Linked DNA regions of Homo sapiens: region 1 is linked to region 2. Evidence: fine-mapped expression QTL. Tissue or cell type: whole blood. Region 2 holds a variant in brackets; the other region holds the start of a gene. All regions are shown on one strand. Distances are between the middles of the regions.

The links. PIP is the estimated chance that this variant, and not a neighbour inherited with it, causes the effect.
Region 1: TEX101 starts here. The variant in region 2 is fine-mapped to the expression of TEX101 in whole blood (INTERVAL, PIP 0.99).

What each region holds. Positions count from the first base shown.
Region 1 is chr19:43,409,239-43,419,233 of GRCh38, forward strand. TEX101 (testis expressed 101) reads left to right here and starts at 5,652. Exons shown (of 6, transcript NM_001130011.3): 1 at 5,652-5,800; 2 at 6,643-6,745; 3 at 6,861-7,004; 4 at 7,135-7,317; 5 at 8,640-8,768; 6 at 8,930-9,359. The coding sequence starts at 6,682. The coding sequence ends at 9,159. RefSeq lists a silencer at 3,853-4,039.
Region 2 is chr19:43,368,353-43,378,347 of GRCh38, forward strand. It overlaps the pseudogene CD177P1. Among named protein-coding and RNA genes, the nearest start is that of CD177, 20 kb to the left of the region's middle. The variant G/A (reference allele first, on the strand shown) is at 4,387.

The DNA.
Region 1 (9,995 bases), 41 kb after region 2:
GTTGGGTGCTTGCCTTATTTGAACCAGGTTTGAACAGTTAGTTGGGTACCTGTGATTGGCTGAGACTCAGCTATTTTTACTATAGCAGGTTACAGACTGTTTACACATCAAGTTAGGTTACAGTTCACTATGTATGGAGAAACCATTAGACCAAACTTAAAGTAGTAGGGAGGCAGCTTTAGACCTAACAATGTTAACAGGCCAAACATTTCAATTAAGGGGTACAGATTGGTCAAATTGCATAAAAAAGCAATACCCATATATACTGTCTACAAGGGAAATATTTTACATATAGGGAAAAGCATTATTGAAAGTGTGAGTATTGAAAAAGATATACCATGCAAACAGTAAGCACAAGAAAGTTGAAGTACTAGTAAAAAAAAAAAAAGAAAGAAAGAAAATAGAATTCAAAACAGAAGGTAAAAGAGACTGAAGCAGGAGAATTGCTTGAACCTGGGAGGCGAAGGTTGCAGTGAGCCAAGATTGCACCATTGCACTCCAGCTCTGGGTGACAGAGCAAGACTCCATCTCTGTGGAAAAAAAAGAAAAGGAGAAACAAATGTGAGTGTAAGCAAGGCGAGTGTTTCCTCTATGATTAGTAATTAGCAGTCTTCAAAAAGACATTCTGTGGCTTGGGGTTTAATAGTAAAATAATTAGCTGGCATGGTGACATGTTCCTGTACTCCCACCCAAGAGGCTGAAGTGGGAGGATTGTTTGAGCCCAGGAGTTTGAGGCTGCAGTGAGCTGTGATTGCACCACTGTACTCCAGCCTGGACAAGATTGAGAGAGATCCTGTCTCAAAAAAAAAATAAGTAAAACTGGTGGTTTAACCTCAAGGCTTACAACTCATTGTTTTGTAAGGTTTGCAGAAGATCTCAATCCTTTACAAGTAGGAAGGAAAAGCCTGTTGGTTTGAGAGGGAACTGGGTGTGTGCATAGGCCTGTTGGTAGGAGAACTGGAGCACTCAAAAAGGGAGCTGCACGATGCTTATGCCGGCTTCACTGAGGGCTGTGGGCATTGGAGGAATGGGCTTTGAAGGACAATTAGGAGTTTGTGGGGTAAACAAATGCATGGGGGAAGCGGATTAGGGAGAGGTCTCCCATGCAGAGGGACCAGTGTGAGCAAAGCCAAAGAGGCTGGAAGAGACTAGGGATGTCCTGGGAATAGATATTAGACAGGGAATGATAAGGGTGAGGCATGGGGGCTGGTCTCCAAGACCAGTGTGGGAGGTTGGAATTTTCCCCCAGGAATACAGGAAGCATGGAAAAAATTCTGAGGATGGAATACGGAGGGCCTGAGGTATGTGGTGGCTCACTGTTGTGTGTTTCTCATTTCTGGATCTAAGAGACATTCTTTAATCCAGCAAATGTTTACTTACCTACACTGTAATCATATGCTGAGTACACAGAGATGGATCAGACACAGCTGGAAGGAACCAGATACACACATGCCCATGCACACATGCACACTGACATGTACACCGAGACACACACATCAGACACACATTCACACACAGCACACAGATACACACAGACATACATATATACAGACATGTGCACACACAAACATGCATGCACTCACAGTCACACATGAACACACATAGCCAATTATACTATAAAGTACAAAAAAAAAATTTTTTTTTGAGACAGGGTCTTGCTCTGTCACCAGAGCAAAAGCTGGAGTACAGTGGCGTTATCTCGGCTCACTGCAACTGCAACCTCCACCTCCTGGGCTCCAGCGATCCTCCCACCTCAGCCTCCCAAAGTGTTGGGATTACAGGCATGAGCCATGGCACCCAGCCTAGAATCTTACTTGAGGTAAAATGAGAATCCACTGGAAGGTTTTGGTTTTTTTGAAACAGAGTCTTGCTCTGTCACCCAGGCTGCAGTGCAGTAGCACAATCTTGACTCACTGCAGCCTCCACCTCCCAGGTTCAAATGATTCTCTCGCTGCAGCATCCAGAGTAGCTGGGATTACAGGGGCGCACCACCACGCCCAGCTAATTTTTTCATTTTTAGTGGAGACAGGGTTTCACCATGTTGGCCAGGCTGGTCTCGAACTCCTGATCTCAGGTGATCCACCACCTCGGCCTCCCAAAGTGCTGGGATTACAGGCCTGAGCCACCGTGCCTGGCCCATTAGAAAGTTTTAAACAGGAGTAATGTGGTGTGGCTTGCAATTAAGAGATCGCTCTGGTGCCAGGTGGGAAATAGCCACATGGGCAAGGGCAGGGCGTACTGCAATAATCCAGTGACCAATGGTGGTGTCACAAGTGCTTATATAAAAAGATGCCTTCACTGTATATTAGCCATTGAGCTTTTTTCTTTTTTACAAACGTTCCATGGATTCATAAACTATTTGCCAACCATTGCTCTAGACTAACCTCCTCATTTTCTTTTTTTTCTTTTTTTTCTTTTTTTTTGAGACCAAGACCAAGTTTTGCTCTTGTTGCCCAGGCTGGAGTGCAATGGTGCAGTCTCAGCTCACTGCAACCTCCGCCTCCCAGGTTCAAGTGATTCTCCTGCCTCAGCCTCCCAAGTAGCTGGGATTACAGGCGCGTGCCACCAGGCCTGGCTAATTTTTGTATTTTTAGCAGAGACAGGGTTTCACCGTGTTGGTGAAGGTCAGGCTGGTCTCAAACTCCTGACCTCAGGTGAACCACCCACCTTGGCCTCCCAAAGTGCTGGGATTATGGGCTTGAGCCACTGCACCCAGCCTAACCTCTTCATTTTCTAGATGAGGACACTGAAGCTTGGAGAGGAACAGAAATTGGCTCAGGCTAAGGAAGATCTGTCAATCTCTCTTGCACCAAAAAGGCAAAGCCACCTTTCTCAAGGGGCTGTGTATTGGGGTGTTCTTGCACTGCTATAAAGAAATACCTGAGACTAGAAGTAATTTATAAGAAAAGAGGTTTGATTGGCTCAAGGTTCTGCAGCTGTACAGGAAGCGTGGTGCCAGCATCTCCTTCTGGGGAGGCCTCAGAGAGCTTTTACTTATGGCAAAAGGATGCAGGCCAGAGAAGGGGAGCGAGAGAGAGTAAGAAGGGGAGGTGCCACACACTTAAACAACCAGATCTGGCAAGGACTCACTCATCATTGCAAGGACAGCACCAAGTCATGAAGGATCTGCCCCCATAACCCAAACACCTTCCACCAGGTCGCATCTCCAACACTGGGAATTACATTTCAACATGAGATTTGGGCGGGGGACAAATATCCAAACTATGTCACGGAGCAAGAGGAGGTCCCTGGAGCTGTTGAAGCAGAAATGGGGTGAAGAATAGAGGTGGAGGGTGCTTAGGCTTCCAAGGTCTCTTCTAGGTGTGAGATGGAGGGATTCTGCGACCAAGTCACCTGGAGAGTGACTCAACAAGGTGACTGCTTTCCCAAGCACGAGCCCTCGGGGGACAGACGGGGGCTGAAAACTGGCACACATTCTTCCTGGATCCTTTGACATGTGATCATTCAAAGATAACAGTTCAAAGATAACAAAGGGATTGAAGCTTTACCAATCCCTTTCTTATTGTGGCATTTTCTCTATTAAAAATAAATACTCATTTATACTATAACTTACAGAATCAGTACCAATTCTGAAAGTATACAAAGCGTTGCCTTACTTTAAGGAAGGAGACCACTACTACTCCTGCTGCCCTCCTCCCCCGACCTTGCCTAGTTCACAAGACAGGAGGAAAGAGAGAAAGCAAAAAGTTGGAAAGAAACAGAAGTAAGATAAATAGCCAGTCAACCTTGGCACCACCACCCAGCCCTAGGAGTTAAAAAAAGTAATAATAATAACAGCAACCCCTGACCTAAACTACTTGTGTTATCTGTAAGTTCCAGACATTATATGAAAAAGCATTGCAAAACTTTCTGTTCTGTTACCTGATGCATGTAGCCCCCAGTCACGTTTCCCACGCTTGCTCGATTTATCACGACCCTTTCATGTGGACCCCTCGAAGTTGTAAGCCTTTAAAAAGGCCAAGAATTGGCCAGGCGTGGTGGCTCATGCCTGTAATCCCAGCACTTTGGGGGGCGGGCGGATCACGAGGTCAGGAGATCGAGACCATCCTGGCTAACACAGTGAAACCCCATCTCTACTAAAAATACAAAAAAATTAGCCGGGTGTGGTGGTGGGTGACTGTAGTCCCAGCTACTCGGGAGGCGGAGGCAGGAGAATGGCATGAAGTCGGGAGGCAGAGCTTGCAGTGAGCCGAGATTGCACCACTGCACTCCAGCCTGGGCAACAGAGGGAGACTCCAAAAAAAAAAAAAAAGGCCAAGAATTTATTTTTCAGGGAGCTCGGCTCTTAAGACGCAAGTCTGCTGAGGCTCCCGGCCAAATAAACCTCTTCCTTCTTTAATCCAGTATCTGAGGAGTTTTGTCTGCAGCTCATCCTGCTACAACTTCATGTCACACCTGGAAAGCTTACATAGGCCAGGGGTGGTGGCTCACGTCTGTAATCCCAGTACTCTGGGAGGCCGAGGTGGGCAGATCACCTGAGGTTAGGAGTTCAAGACCAGCCTGGTCAACACGGCGAAACCCCGTCTCTACTAAAAATACAAAAATTAGCCAGGTGTGGTGGCAGGTGCCTGTAATCCTAGCTGCTCAGGGGAGACTGAGGCATGAGAATCGCTTGAACCTGGGAGAGGGAGGTTGCAGTGAGCTGAGATCACGTCACTGCACTCCAGCCTGGGGGATAGAGAGAGGCTCTGTCTCCAAAAAAAAAATACAAAAAATTAGCCAGGCATGGTAGCTTATGCCTGTAATCCCAGCTACCTGGGAGGCTGTGGTAGGAGAATCACTTGAACCCAGGAGGAGGAGGTTGCAGGGAGCCAAGATTGTGCCATTGCACTCCAGCCTGGGCAAAAAGAGCAAAAGTCTGTCAAAAAGGGAAGGGAAGGGGAGGGGAAGGGAGGGGAGGGGAGGGAAGGGAAGGTTACATAGATGTGAAAGTGAACTGCCAGCCATGAGCAACAAATCCGAGTGACATGTCTTCTTCATGGTCCTGACACGGACGCGTGGGTTCGATCTGACAGCAGCCTGTGCCATCATAGCTACTGCTCATGCATGCATTCGGGGTGCCCAAAGTGATGCTGAGGGGGGCATTCCTAGATTCAACCCTCCAGGAGACCATGAGGAGGCTGGTGCGATAGCGCAATCAGATGAAGACGCCTGGGCTGCACAGGGGCCACTGCAAGTGAAGACTCAAGAGGCCAAGCTGACTCCCAGAGGCTAGGGCCACTAAGGTGGGTGCCGAGGCAGGGGCCAGGCTGGGAACATGAGAGGCCATTTGGGTAGGGAGATAAGTTCCGTGAGTGAGGGCCAAGGGTCTGACCTCCTAGTGTGGCTGGAGAAGCAGAGACAACAGAGTGCAAAAAGAGAAATGGGCCAGGCGAGGCCATCTGGCAACGCACTGCCCACCCTCCATTGCGTGCCTCTGGCTGCAAAAACAGGCAGGATCTTCCGGCCGGTTTGCCCGCCACTCACCTTCCGAGCATGCGCACCCTCCGAGATTGCCAGGAATTGACTTCTCTGTGGCCAATGAGGTGCCGCGTTCCTCCAGGCTCATCCAATGAACTTATCCGATGCTTTTGCATCCACCAATGGGGTTTCGAGTGCTGTGTGGCCAGGCTGGCCCGGCCTTGCGTCGTAAGAGAATGCCAAGCCCGGGGAGAAGGCGTTCCGGGCCTCAACTTTGGCGTCGTGAGATTCTTGTGAGGCGTCTGCCTGGAAGCCGGCAGCAATTTTGCTTCTTTAAAGAGAAAAAGAAGGCTAGGGACTCAGATTCCTGGATTCTGAGGAAAGAGAAGGCTGGGGACCCAGATCCTGGCTCTGAGGGGAACGAGGGTTGGGGGCCTGGGCTCCCGGGCCTGAGAGGGAGGGGACCAGAATGGTGTGTCCCGCAGGAAAAGGTGGTTGGAACCCAGACTCCTCGATCCCTACATAGGACGGGGCTGGGCTCTCAGAATCCCGGGTTCTGATGAGGCTGGGGCTGGGGCTGGGGGCCGAGATTCTGGGTCCCTGAGAGAATGTAAGGGACCCCTGAGACTGAGGGAGAAGCGGCCTTCAGGGCCACACTCCTGATCCTGAAGTTGGAGGGCACTGGGTGGCCGGGCCTGAGAATTAAAACCATGAAAAACTGGGGCGTGATAAACCTGTGAACTCGCTCCAGCTCACAAGCCGGTTAGGGACAGAACGACTTTAGAAGTCGTGGTCATATACACCATAAACCCCACTGTGAGGCCGGGCATCAGGGCTCACTCCTGGAATCCCAGCACTATGGGGGGACGAGGCGGGCAGATCACCTGAGATCAGGAGTTCGAGACCAGCCTGACCAACATGGTGAAACGTCATCTCTACTAAAAATACAAAAAATTCACTGGGTGTGGTGGCGGGCACCTGTAATCCCGGCTACTCGGGAGGCTGAGGCAGGAGAATTGCTTGAACCTGATAGGCAGAGGCAGTGAGCCGAGATTGCGCCACTGCACTCCAGCCTGGGCGACAGTGCAAGACTCCGTCTCAAAAAAAAAAAAAATGCAGATTAAAACACCCCACCCTGAAGTCAGTACTTGCCAGGACCTAGATTTGATCTCATGCACTCTGGCTGAAAAGTTAATTGCCTTCTCTCCATCAAATTCACAGATCCAGACCAGCTCCTCCCAGACCTCTCCAGAAGAAGCCATGGGAACCCCTCGTATCCAGCATTTGCTGATCCTCCTGGTCCTAGGAGCCTCCCTCCTGACCTGTGCGTATGGGGGACATAGGGGAGAGCCGTGTGTCACAGAAGGTGGACTGATGATGAAAAGGGAGCCGCCTTGGCCCATGGAGAAGTGCTTATCCTTTTCTTGTTTTCTCCTCAGCGGGCCTAGAGCTGTATTGTCAAAAGGGTCTGTCCATGACTGTGGAAGCAGATCCAGCCAATATGTTTAACTGGACCACAGAGGAAGTGGAGACTTGTGACAAAGGGGCACTTTGCCAGGAAACCATACTAATAATTAAAGCAGGTGAAATGAGATGGGGCATTTGGGCTGGGTAGGAGGGAGGTTGATTATCTCCATGCCAATGCTTGTTCCCTTCGTCCAGGCCAATTGTGACGGCCACCATCCATTTCCCCTCCTTCCTGTCTCATAACAGGGACTGAGACAGCCATTTTGGCCACGAAGGGCTGCATCCCGGAAGGGGAGGAGGCCATAACAATTGTCCAGCACTCTTCACCTCCCGGCCTGATCGTGACCTCCTACAGTAACTACTGTGAGGATTCCTTCTGTAATGACAAAGACAGCCTGTCTCAGTTTTGGGAGTTCAGTGAGACCACAGGTACCCTGGAAGTGGGGGAGATAGGTACTAAGAGAAACTCCATAAAGAGCTTGTGTATGGCCTCCCTTTGCATTCTGACTTGGCTTAGCCTAAGTGGTCCATACCCCAAAGTACCTCACAGTTCAAGTAATTTTATGTTTCTGAATTGTTCATTGGGATCTAAACACTGCTCAGAGCAGCGAGATACCAGTGAAGCCTGGAGTGTAAACTGGGTTTTGTGTTTATTAAGCAATAAGACAGGCTGGGTGAGGTGGATCGCCTGAGGTCAGGGGTTTGGGACCAGCTTGGCCAACATGGTGAAAACCTGTCTCTACTAAAAATACAAAAATTAGCTTAGCCTGGTGGCGCACACCTGTAATCCCAGATACTCGGGAAGCTGAGGCAGGAGAATTGCTTGAACCCAGGAGGCAGAGGTTGCAGTGAGCCAATATCACACCACTGCACTTCAGCCTGGGACAGAGAGCAAGACTCCATCAAAAAAAAAAAAAAAAAAAGCAATAAGACATCAGTGTAGGTTTCCGAACAGGGTGGTATTATCAGTCTAACAAGTATTGGTTTCCCACTGCTGCACGAGAACGGCCCAGTTCCCCAATTTACAAGGCCTGTAGTAACTTGGCCCTTCCTGTCTTTTCAGCTTCATTTCCCTCTCTTCCCTCTCTCATTTACTGTGTGCTAACTGGGGCTAATACTCAAAATGCTTAACAATGTAGATGGCACTGGCCAATCAAAATGGATTCTGGCCATAAAAAACAAAAACAAAAACAAAAAAAACAGATCAAAGAAACAGCTGGGCCTACAAGCTGAATATGAGTCGTGCAACTTCTCACAATTCCCTGAATCCACCAAGCTGGCTCACACCACCTGACCTTTGTCCTTGCTGTTTCCTTTACTACCCTCCCCACCCCATTTTCACATAGCTAACCCCTGTTCATCCTCCATGTCAATTCAGGTATCAGCTCTTTGAAAATATTTGCCAAATTCTTTTAGGTAGTTGGGTATTCCTCCATTCCTTTGTCATTATACCTTGAACACAGCAGCTACTGAATTGATTACTTACATGTCTTTCTCCTAGGCAGAGATGCCAGGTGACAGGAACTATGTCCTTTTCATCTCTGTATCTTCACACCTCAGCAGAGTTTGGAAGTCAGATCGATGGAGATTTCACAGCAGAGAACACCAGCTGGGGAAGGATGGGGAGGCTGAAGTAATGGGCCTTGATTAGAGTGGCATCTGCAGGAAAATCTTGGGGAAGAGAAGGCAGCAAGGAGCAACATCTCTGGAGGCAGGACCTGCCCTTAACTGTCTCTCTCATTTCCCTCCAGCTTCCACTGTGTCAACAACCCTCCATTGTCCAACCTGTGTGGCTTTGGGGACCTGTTTCAGTGCTCCTTCTCTTCCCTGTCCCAATGGTACAACTCGATGCTATCAAGGAAAACTTGAGATCACTGGAGGTAAACTGAAATGAACATCTGATAGTTTCAGAGGCTGGAAAACCATTTGAGTGGCTCCCCAGAGATTCTGACACTGAGCTCTCCAGGGATGAGGGGGGACTGGATTCTCCTCTGATGTCCTAAAACATCTCTGTCTCTCCCGATCCTTCCTTGTTCTATAGGTGGCATTGAGTCGTCTGTGGAGGTCAAAGGCTGTACAGCCATGATTGGCTGCAGGCTGATGTCTGGAATCTTAGCAGTAGGACCCATGTTTGTGAGGGAAGCGTGCCCACATCAGCTGCTCACTCAACCTCGAAAGACTGAAAATGGGGCCACCTGTCTTCCCATTCCTGTTTGGGGGTTACAGCTACTGCTGCCATTGCTGCTGCCATCATTTATTCACTTTTCCTAAGAAGGCACTTCTGGGCCTGGGTCTGAGGACATCTTTTTTGACTGGGAGCCTTCTTACTGTTGAGGTTCAACAAGCTGAGGAGTAGATGGGAATTTGAGGGAGAATACAGAGATACTATGAACGTATTTGACATTTTTAATACAATTTCTGCTATAATTTTTGTATGCAGTAGGCGTTACTAATAAACATTTCTGCTGTGATTTGTGTATGTTTCAACACTAGAAGTGGAATTTTAGTGCTGAAAGAGCCTTTAAAATTCATCTTCTCCAAACCACACATTCTCCAGAAAGAGAATCTGAGATCTGGAAAATTTCAGTGAGTTTCTTACATTTAGCTATGGCCAGAGCCAAGGCAAGAACTTACATATTTTGACGTAAAGTCTGATTTTCCTTTCACTCTAATATGCTAGCTCTCCTTGCTAGCAGAAGTAACTAGCATTAGCCTCCTCCAGAACACTCCCAGCCCAATCTTAAGGCTGCTGTTTTGGGGTTCTAAAATTTCCCTAGGAAGTATGGCCAAATGAGAAAAATCAGACTCCAAATTCTCCAGTTATGGGCCTGCTGTAGTGGCTTATACCTGTAATCCCAGCACTTTGAGAGGCAGAGGTGGGAGGATTGCATGAGCCAAGGAGTTTGAGACCAGCCTGGGCAACCTAATGAGACTACATCTCTACAAAAAAAAATAATCCAAAAATTAGCCTGGCATGGTGGCGCTCGCCTGTAGTCCCAGCTACTTGGGAGGCTGAAGTGGGATGATCACTTATGTCCACAAAAAGAGTCAAACTCTGTAAAATATTTGAAAAGATTTATTCTGAACCAAATGTGAGTGACCGTGGT
Region 2 (9,995 bases):
CTCTCTCTGCCTTTCTCGATCTCTCTGTTTCTCACCCTCCTTCTGCCTTCCCCTAAGCCAGGGACTTCATGGCTCTGATGGCTGTCCAGCGGTGTTGCCCATTTTTATTGAAGTATCCTTCTGTCGACCCACTTGGAAAGACTTCCAAGATACACTGCACAGTGAGAAAAACAAGAAGCAGAACAGTGCACAGTGTGCCACCTCTGGCATTACAAAGGAGGAAATGTAAAATGAATTTATAAATGGCCAATAAGCAAATAAAATTTGGTCAACATCACTTATCATTAGGAAAATGGAAATCAAAACCACAGTGAGATACCACCTTACATCTGTTCTGATGGCAGTTCTGAAAAAAAAAAAAAAAAAAAAAACAAAGTGTTGGCGAGGAGAAATTGGAATGCTTGTGCAGTGTTTGTGGGTATATAATATGGCACAACCACTGTGGTCATTTCTCAAAAAATTAATCATAGACTTACCACACGATGCAGCAATTCTACTTCTGGTGTATTCTGAAAAGAACTGAGAGCAGGGGCCCCAGCAGGTATCTGCATGTCTTTGTTCATAGCAGCATTATTCACACTAGCCAAAGGTGTAAACAAGCCAAATGATATGGCTTTCCTCTGTCCGAACACAAATCTCACGTTCAGCTGTAATTCCCAAAGGTCGAAAATAGCCTCCTTGTCCCAGCCACCTGACCTCCCTCTGTAATGAGATGCCGTTCCCCCGACTGCAAGTGACTCAGGCTCCCATGGCACCTGTCCTCCTGCCCCTCCCTCTACCACATCTGTGAGCTCCTGGGAAGCCCTGTGACCTCATACAGAGGAGGAAAGTGCAGACCAGGCTTATGGATGGGTCCTCACGGTGAGCTGGCGCCCAGCAGAAGTGGACGGCGGCTGCCTTAGTGCCCACTTCAGGTGGTCCTGAGGAGTGATGAAGGGAAATCCTTCAGATGGGCAGAACCTCAGGGGTTCTGCAAGGAGGGATGGACTTGGGTCCATTGCATGAACCCAGAGCGGGCCACATGGTCAAGGACTTGAAGAGAATAAAAGAGTAAACTTAAGACAGGGAGGACACATGGATGTTCCTCTGGGGATGGGCACAAAGTGTGAGCTATGCCGTCCCCACCCTTAAGCCCAGAACCTGTGCTGTGGGGATGAGGTTCTTGGTGTTTGGTGGATGGTGTCAGGCAGACTCTGTCCCTCAGAGCTTGTTCAGGGGGTCCAGGTGCAGATGGCCACATGGATAGGGAGGACGGCGACGTACCTTACCACAAGTGGACTGAGTCTCCCAGCACTGGCCTGGCTGCACACTGTACCCAGCCCTGCCCAGTGTAGGCAGAGCCCGGGGCTAAGCCCCTGGAAGGCGTCATTTTACAGGAGGACTACCCGGCCACTGCAGATAGGCTGGCCACACAGGACACGTCCCATCCTGGAGGGGACTGGGCTTTGTCCTCACACGGATACGCACACACTGGGGGTTCCAGTTGGCCTTCCCTGGACCCTGCTCAGTGCTTCTGTGAACAGCGCCTTTCCTGTGGCTCTGGAACCCATGCAGGGTTGCTTCCACTGGGGACACGTGTTAACGCAAAGAATGGGGGGTAATTAACTCACACCCATGGAACCCACTGACCGTCTCAGGTGCCCCTCTATACAGACACAGCTGCTTCTCAGATTGGCGCAATGGCTCATGTGTGGCTTATCAGGGCACCGGGAGGGAGACCGTACCCCACCACCCACAGGAGGGGCCACACATCTTATAAACCAGCAACCAGGCTATCGGGTCACGCGCCCCAGGGCCAGATGCAAAGATCCAGGAAAGACAGGAAGAATAAGCGCGGCTCCCTCCCGTGACTGCACCTGCCAGCCCACTGAGAGAATGCTTGCTCTTTGTCCCCGTGGCCCTGGGCTGCTGTGGATGAGGAATCTCTTCCTAGTTCTGATCTGCAGGAAGCCATGACAGCCCTCCAGCCATCCTGTGCCCCTTGTGCTGCCAAAACAGCAGGCAAAGGAGACGTCACTCTGCAGTCGGGGGAATGGCATCTGATTACAGAGGGAGGTCGGGTGGCTGGGACAAGGAGGCTATTTTCGAAGGCAGGCAACTCATGGCGGTAACATTTCCTTGGCCAGGGCCCTGTTCCATGGAAAACTATAGAAACCCACTAAAGACAAGGCCATCCAAGACTCACTCTCCATAAGAATCAAGATTTGGGTTACACTGCAGGTAACAAATAACATCCAAAGGAGGTTTTGGAGGTGGGAGGACAATGTGGAATGTACTGGAAGAAAGCAGCTCTGAGCACCAGCAGCCCCGCCCCCAGGACCTCAGCAGCTGTATTGGAAGCCATCTCTTCCCCATCTTCCTCTCATTGTGGGCGAAGAACTGGTGCACAGCACAATGGGAGGAGGACATCACTGTCACCATCACACACTGTTACTGTGACAGAGGGAAGGACTGGAATTGTGTGTCGTCTGTACGGAGGACTCTGATTATTTTTTCCCCCTTGAGACAGGGTCTCGCTCTGTCCCCCAGGCTGGAGTGCAGTGGTGCAGTCTTGGCTCACTGCAGCCTTGACCTTCTGGACTCAGCCTTCTCAGTAGCTGGGACCACAGGCGTGCACCACCACACCCGGCTAATTTTTTGTTGTCTTAGTGGAGACTGGATTTCACGGTATTAGCCAGGATGGTCTCAATCTCCTGACCTCATGATCTGCCCGCCTCGGCCTCCCAAAGTACTGGGACTACAGACAGGCACGCACCACCACACCCGGCTAATTTTTTGTATTTTTTGTAGAGAAGCAGTTTCACTATGTTGCCCAGGCTGGTCTCAAACTCCTGGGCTCGAGTGATCCTCCCACCTCAGCTTCCCAAAGTGCTGGCATTACAGGCGTGAGCCACCGAGCCTGTCCTGGACTCTGATTTTCATCTGGACAAAGGGAAAGGGTGGATGCCGAGGGGCAAGGGAGTGAACGGTGCTAGACGTGTTCTGTTTCCTTCTCCAGATTCACTCTCTTCTCCTCTTCCCTTTCCTCTCCTCTGTTCTCTACTGTGAATGGCAGATCTATGGGGGCTGGACCAGTGGAGTCTCCTGCTTCTGTGGCCTCTAGGGGGTTCAGTCAATGGGGAACCTCAACTGGAGACCAGAGTGAGGACATCAGTTTGGAATTTTAGTTCCCCACTTCCCTCCCCAGTATCATTGCGGGCTGGACGCGTTTTTCAGCCTGAGATGGGAGCTCTTGTTAGGCAACCCTCTCTGAATATCTCTCTCTTTCTGTCTCCGGCTCTCTCTCCAGCTCTCTCTGTCTCTTTCTGTCTATGTCTCTCTCTCTCTCTCTCTCTCTGTCTGCAGATTCCAGCAGTGGCTCTTCTCCTCACCCTTTTTGGGCTATGGTGGTAAGAGATACCCAATGGTAACAGCTCTGGGAAAATGCTAACCCATTTTTTTCTGGAGTTCTCTTTAGCCCTTATGTCAATTATCCCACAATAGGCAGATGCTACATAGCAACGTTTGGGTCAGTGACGAATTGCGTATAGAACGGTGGTCTCCTGAGATGACAATAGTGTATTTATGCTGTACCTTTTCTATGTTTAGATGTGTATAGATGCACAAATACTTGCCGTGGTGTTACGATGCCTGCAGTATTCACACCATAACATGCACTGCAGGCTTGTAGCCTAGGAGCAGTCAACTCTACCATCCATCCTGGGTGTGTATTGGGCTGTACCATCTGGGTTGGTGTAAGTGCACTCTACAATGTTCCTTTCGTGATAAAATCACCTAACGACACATTTCTAACGACACGTCCCTGTCGTAAAGCAATGCATGACTATACTAACCTCTCCTGCAGTCGCTCAGATGGGGCCAGCCCCCTGTTTGTGCTAGGGCCCTGGCTGCTAGGCTGGAAGCCTCATACATCTCAGTGCATCTTCCCCTCCCAGGTCATGGTGATGCCCAAATACGTTTGGCTGGAGCACCCTGAAGTCTCTGCTACCATCCAAGCTGGTTTGGAGACATGAACCAGACCAATGAAGGGCAGGCTTTGGATGGCCATTTTCTCATTAGGTTCCTCTCCTCCACCATGCTAGATCCCTGGGCGTCCTGCTGTCCCCTTACATGGAGAAATCCCAGCACTGGGAGAAAGCACAGGGTCTTTATTATCAGACACATGCAGCCACTCCTCCAGTGTCCCCTCTCCCACAGGGCAAGTCCGGCTGCTCCAGGCTCTCCCCAGTGTTGCTATTAGGTGAGTAGATATGAATGATTATGTGTGGGGAAGATGATTCATGGACAGGATGGGGAAATAATCTGGTGTCCAAGGCCATTAGGTTACAAGCACAAGGGACGGTTGAGTGTGGTGGTGAGCAGCGGTGAAGAATCGTGGGGGAAATG[G/A]AGTTAGCAGGAAGGGCAAACCGCTCCCCACCACAGCGCTGGGGCCAGTGCCAGCCCCACCCCCCAAGTGAGACACTCCAGGCCCCCAGCCCCACCTCCCTCATGCTGAGAGGCAGGAGGCGGCTCATCACCCTTCTCACACACAGAGAAGATCCCAATTTGTCTGGTGTGGTTCAACAAGGAGCTGGAAGGTTGGGCCACACAGCCCTGAATGCTCATTCTGGTGGTCAGCCCACCTAGAGGGAGAAGACCAAGTCAGAAAGGACACAGAGTACAGCCCAGCCAAATTCATAAACCCAGGAGTCCAGGCCCCAGACCCTCCTCCCTCAAACGCAGGAGCTCAGACCCCCAGCCCCTCCTACCTCAGACCCAGGAGTCCAGGCCCCCAGCCCCTTCTCCCTCAGTCCCAGGAGCCCAGGACACCAGCGCCTTCATCCTTGGGGCCCTGCTTGCAGCACTCACCTCCTGAGAGATGAATGTACCCATCATAACAATGAGTGGCGCCCCTGGGGCAGGTCATTCGGGGGGAGCCACTTGAACAGGTTCCAAGGGGCTGCACACAGGTAGGACACTGCCGGTCTCCTGGGACAGGGGCAGCTGGGGAGCAGAGGGAAGGTGGGGGTACATGACTTTGTGCTCAGAGCAGCTGCCCACCTTGGGCCAGAGTCTCTGTGTGTCTGGGCCTCATTTCTCCACGGCCCTGGATCCCATACCTTGAGGAGGGAGGGAGTTCAGCAGAACGCTGCTGCTGCTGGCACTATTGCACAGGTCCGAGGAGCAGAAGTGGGTATAGGAGGCCACAAGCACCCCAGGAGGGGCTGAGTGGATGGTGGTCTTCTGGGAATTTTGAGCCCCAACAGCGCTGCAGCTTTAGGTCGCCACCAGGGTTGATGTGAGTCCTGAGGGTGAGAGGGAAAGCTGGGCTGGGGACTGGGCAGCTCCCAGGGCAGCAGGGGCTCCAGAGCTGGACTCCCTGCCCTTCACAATACCCCCCAGGCAGAGGGTGAATGCCCTGATCACAACTGCTGGGTCATGTTTAGTGTGGGGCAAAGACGGAGGCTGGGGCCTGGGTCCTGCCCGAAGCTCTGCCTCCTCCCAGTTCTCGCTCAAACGTCACCTTCTCCATGAGTCTCCCCTGAGCACTGAGCTTAAAATTGCAGCCTTCCCCTCACTTTTCCTATCTCCTTTTCCTTGCCAGATTTCTCTCCAGAGCTGGGATCTCCATTCCCCATACTTTGCTGCTTTTTGTTTGTTTGTTTCCTGTTTCTCAAGGCATATAAAGCTGCAGGAATACAGATGGGATTGGATCTGCGGCACCTAAAACAAATGCTGGATAAACATTTCCAGAATGTATGAAGCCACTGAGAGTCCTCGGTGTTGGCACGGTTCTCCACCCTGGGCAGGGATTACCGCATACGTGGTCACCCCTCCCCAGAAAGGCAGACACTGTCATTCCCACTGCTTCACCCCCAGTTTTCATAAGGGGAACCCAAGATGCAGAGAGAAGAAGAGTCGGATTGAAAATTGCAGATGTGAAGGGAGCTGAGCAGGAAATTCAGGGGAAAGAATCCAGTGGGGTGGAGGGAGCTGCCAGGGACTTGGGACAGGTGTTCGTCTTCTACCTCAGTCCACGTACCTACATCTATGAGCAGCAGCATCTCCTGACACACCTGCCCCACCTCGCACGTCTCGGTATTAGATGTGGCCCAATCAGTGGGTTCTTTACTCAAGTTTTCCTGCTTCTTCAAGGTGGTCCCCCGATGACAGGTCAGAACATCTGGGGAGAGGAAACCCAGGGTCTGTGTAAGCCAGGAACCCACCATGTCTGTCCCTCCACGTCCTGGGCTAGGGAAGGTGATCATGCTCTTGAGTCACACTCCAGGTGACCTGGCCACGGAGTCCCTCAACCACGGATTCAGAAGGGACTTGGGAGTCCAAACCCCACCCCCATTGTTCCCTGTTTCTGCTTGAACACCCGCAGGGACGTCCTCTCACAGCCCTGTGAGAACAGCCATTCCTTGCTTCAGCTGTGAGAGCAATGGAAGCTCTTCCTGAGCCTCTGCCCATCTCTGCTTCCCCATCTGAGCTTTAAGGTCCTCATTTCAATAATAAGGAAGGCAGCCTGAGACCTTTCTCATACCTTTCAGTTGCAAAGCCCTATGTTCCAAACAAGATGCGAAGGGCCAGGGTGGGCTGAGCACTGCCGCTGAGCACTGCCTCTGCACCTGGCTGACCTCATTGCTTCCCACAGATCCACCCATCTAAGGTTCCAGGGAACACAGCTTATCTGGGATGCCTCATTTCCCCACAGCACCCCAGCAGTAGGTGGTGTGATCACAATCAACACCCTCATTTGCAACAAGGGAAACAGAGGCAGGATTGCTCAGTAGCTGCCCATGCCACACAGCTTGTGAGTGGCAGAGGTAGGCTGGGAACCCAGGGACTCTGGACCCTCAGGGTCGGGGTTGGGAGCAGGAGGGAGACAGGTACTGAAGACCATCCTCGGCTACCTTGGCCCCGAGGCCCTCAAGGCTCTAGTGTGAAACCACAGCCCCTGGCCTCCCCTCACGGCCATCACAGAGCAGGGGGGATCGGTCCCATGATGCAGGGACTCTTAGACTGAGCCCCCAGCTTCCACCAACACATGCGACCTGCAGAACCGATGCCACCCTGGAGGGCTGCTCATTTGCATACTTCACAGATGACAAAATCAAAATCATGGCTCCTGCTCCCTTCTCCCACCCTTCTCTCCCCACTCCCATCTCCCCTACTTACACCCGTGGCGGCTCGTTTCTGCCAGTCTAGCTGAACACATTGGTGTTGTCCTTGACCACGCTCTTTCTCTCCCACATTGTGTTCCTCAAGTAATCCTACTGGCTTGAGCTGCAGAAAATCTTCAAAACCCAACCCCACGTCACCACCTCTGCTGCCTCCAAGCCCCCCGCTTCACTCCCACCTGACTCCTGGGGCAATCCCTGCACCCGCCTGTCACTGTTCCTCTCGCTCCATTCTCCACCCAGCAGGCAGAGGGAGGCTAGGTAAACCTAAGTCAGTTCATGTCACTCCTCTGCTCCGAAGACTCCAGGAGGTCCCCATTCTGGAGAATAAAATTCTAAGCCCTTCCAATGGCCCGGGAGGCCTGATAAGACGCGGCCGCCTCCCTGCTCCCTCCATCACTCTGCTCCGCACAGGTGTTTCTGGCAGGCACTCACCCACATCATGGTCTTTGCATCTGCTTCCGTCCCATGTCTGCAACCATCCCCTCCTCTTCCCCAAATCCAGGGAAAGAGGCTCCATGAGATATGGAGACTTTTGATCCTCGTGTGAAGCTGAGGCTGGAAAGCTGTTTCGGCGGCAGAGCTGGGCCTGGGACCCACGTGTCCCTGATTCAGACGTGGGCTCTTCCCTGCTCTCTCACTGGGACCGCTGCCCAGCTCCTCTAGGGGCAGCCAGGGCCTTATCTGCCCGGGCCCCTTGGTTCTTCACAAGGGGCTGCTGCCATGGCCCCTTTTAGTAACCTGCATCCTTGCACCCAGCCCTCCCACTGCTGCGGCTTCTTATAAGCGGTTCCATCACCCTGAAGCCTCTTCTCTCCTGCACTTGGTCCCCAACGTCTTGTTGTTCCCCCAGTTTCTGATGCCTGGTCTTGTGATGCTCACTGTCTGCTAAACTGCTGAACTGCACTTCACCAGGGAGGCAAAACAGCCTGCAAGATCTGGCTCCAGTGTTGAAAGCAGAAGATGAATCTCTATGAACAGCACTGATTGGTGCATAGTCGCTGTGTTTTATGTGGTGCGTTTGTGTAGTGTGTGCACATGCGTGATGTGTGCAGGTATGTGTGCTGTGTGTGAGTGCGTAGTATACATGTGGGGGGTGTGGTTGTATGGGGTGTGTGGTGTGTTCATGGTATGTTTGTGTGGTGCGTGCATGTGTAGACATACTGTGTGTGATATATGTGGTATGTGTTTGTTTTGTGTGTTTGGTGTGGTGTGTGTTCTGTGTATCTGTGTTTTGCTTGCATGTGGTGTGTGTGGCATGCCAGATGTGTTGTGTGTATTGTGTGTTGTGTGTGGTATGTATTGCATGTCTGATATGTTGAGAGGGAGAGTGTGTGTGGTACCTGACGTGTAGTATGTGGCATACACACTACATGTACACGTAGTAATTGTGCACTCGTGTGATGCATTTGTGTGTGTTGTGCATATTGTGTGCTCTGTGTGTGATTTGTGTTCCATAGGTGGTATGTCAGGGGTATGGGGGAGTGTGTGTGTGGTATGTGATGTGTGGTGTGTATGTGTCATGGTGTGACGCATTCGTGTCTGCTGTGCTTATTGTGGGCTGTGTGTGTGGCATGTGTTGCGTCTGATTTGTTTCTGAAATACCTTCTGGGTTATCAGTGTCATCTGGTCCCAGAGACCAGGGCCAGATCCTTAACAGCAGCATCAGTCAAAAGGAAAGATAAATGGCTCAGACCCTGCCCTCCCTGCTCCACAATCTTCCATGGCTCCCCTGCCTTCAGGAGAGGGTCCACCCCTCAGCCTGGGTTTTCAGGTACTTGAGCGACCACCAGGTTCCCCACTTAACTCTTCCTCCCCCACCAGTATCCATTCTGAAGGCATGCCAGTTCATTTCCTCCTCAGCCTCACACCTGCTGTGCCTTTGGCTTGGAGCAGCTCCCTCTTCGACCCCACACCCACCTTGTCCACCTGGAAAACTTCGAATCACCCCCAATCCCAGCTGTACCCCCTCATCTTGATGAGTCCTTCTCAGGTGGAGTGAGGGACTCTTCTTGAAAACAGCAGGCTCACTCCCACCTCCAGGCCTATGCAGCTGCTACACACTGTTCCCTCTGCCACCAATGTCCTCTTCCTCTTCTACCAATAAGCTGTAGGTCATCTTTAACACACGGTTCACAGGCCACCTCCTCTGTAAAGCCCTCCTTGACTCTCTACCCCAACAACATCAGTATTTTCCTCCTCTGAGCTGCCCCAGGCCCCACATCCCCGTTTGCCACAGCCCTGATCACCTCAAGCTGTGACCATCTGTGTCTGTAGCACCTCCCCCTCCTAGTCCTGGAGGCCCTTCAGGTAGAAACAGGGTCTGACTCATGAGGGAGCTTTGCTCAAGTGAGCCCTGCATGTCCTCACTTGAGCAAACACCTCCTGGTACCCTTCCTGAGCCGTCTCCTGAGCTACCCAAGGCTGGAAACCCTGGTGCCAGTGGTACCAAGCCCCTAGCCTCAGGCTCCCAGCCTAGCTAGGGAGAAACAGCCAAATACACAGAGGAATGTGTGCAGAGCTCACACAACTCTCTCTTCTAAGCTCTAAGGGTTAGCGTGATGTGGGCAGACAAGGAAACTGAGGCAGGGGCAGGGAAGACTTTGCTTCTAGGAGGGAAGCTGGGATTCCTATAAGACCCCCACCTCCCCACCATGGCTTCCTGTTGCTTTGGAGCCCTTCTTATGGAGACATTCCCTGGCACTCTCTTCCATGGCAGCACCTAAATGGGTAAGTGGGGACCCTCTCAGTGTCCTCCTTTAACTCTTGCTTTCTCTGTCACACCCAAAGTCCCCTTGATTTTCTCTCTGATGTTCTCTCCTGTGCAGGCAA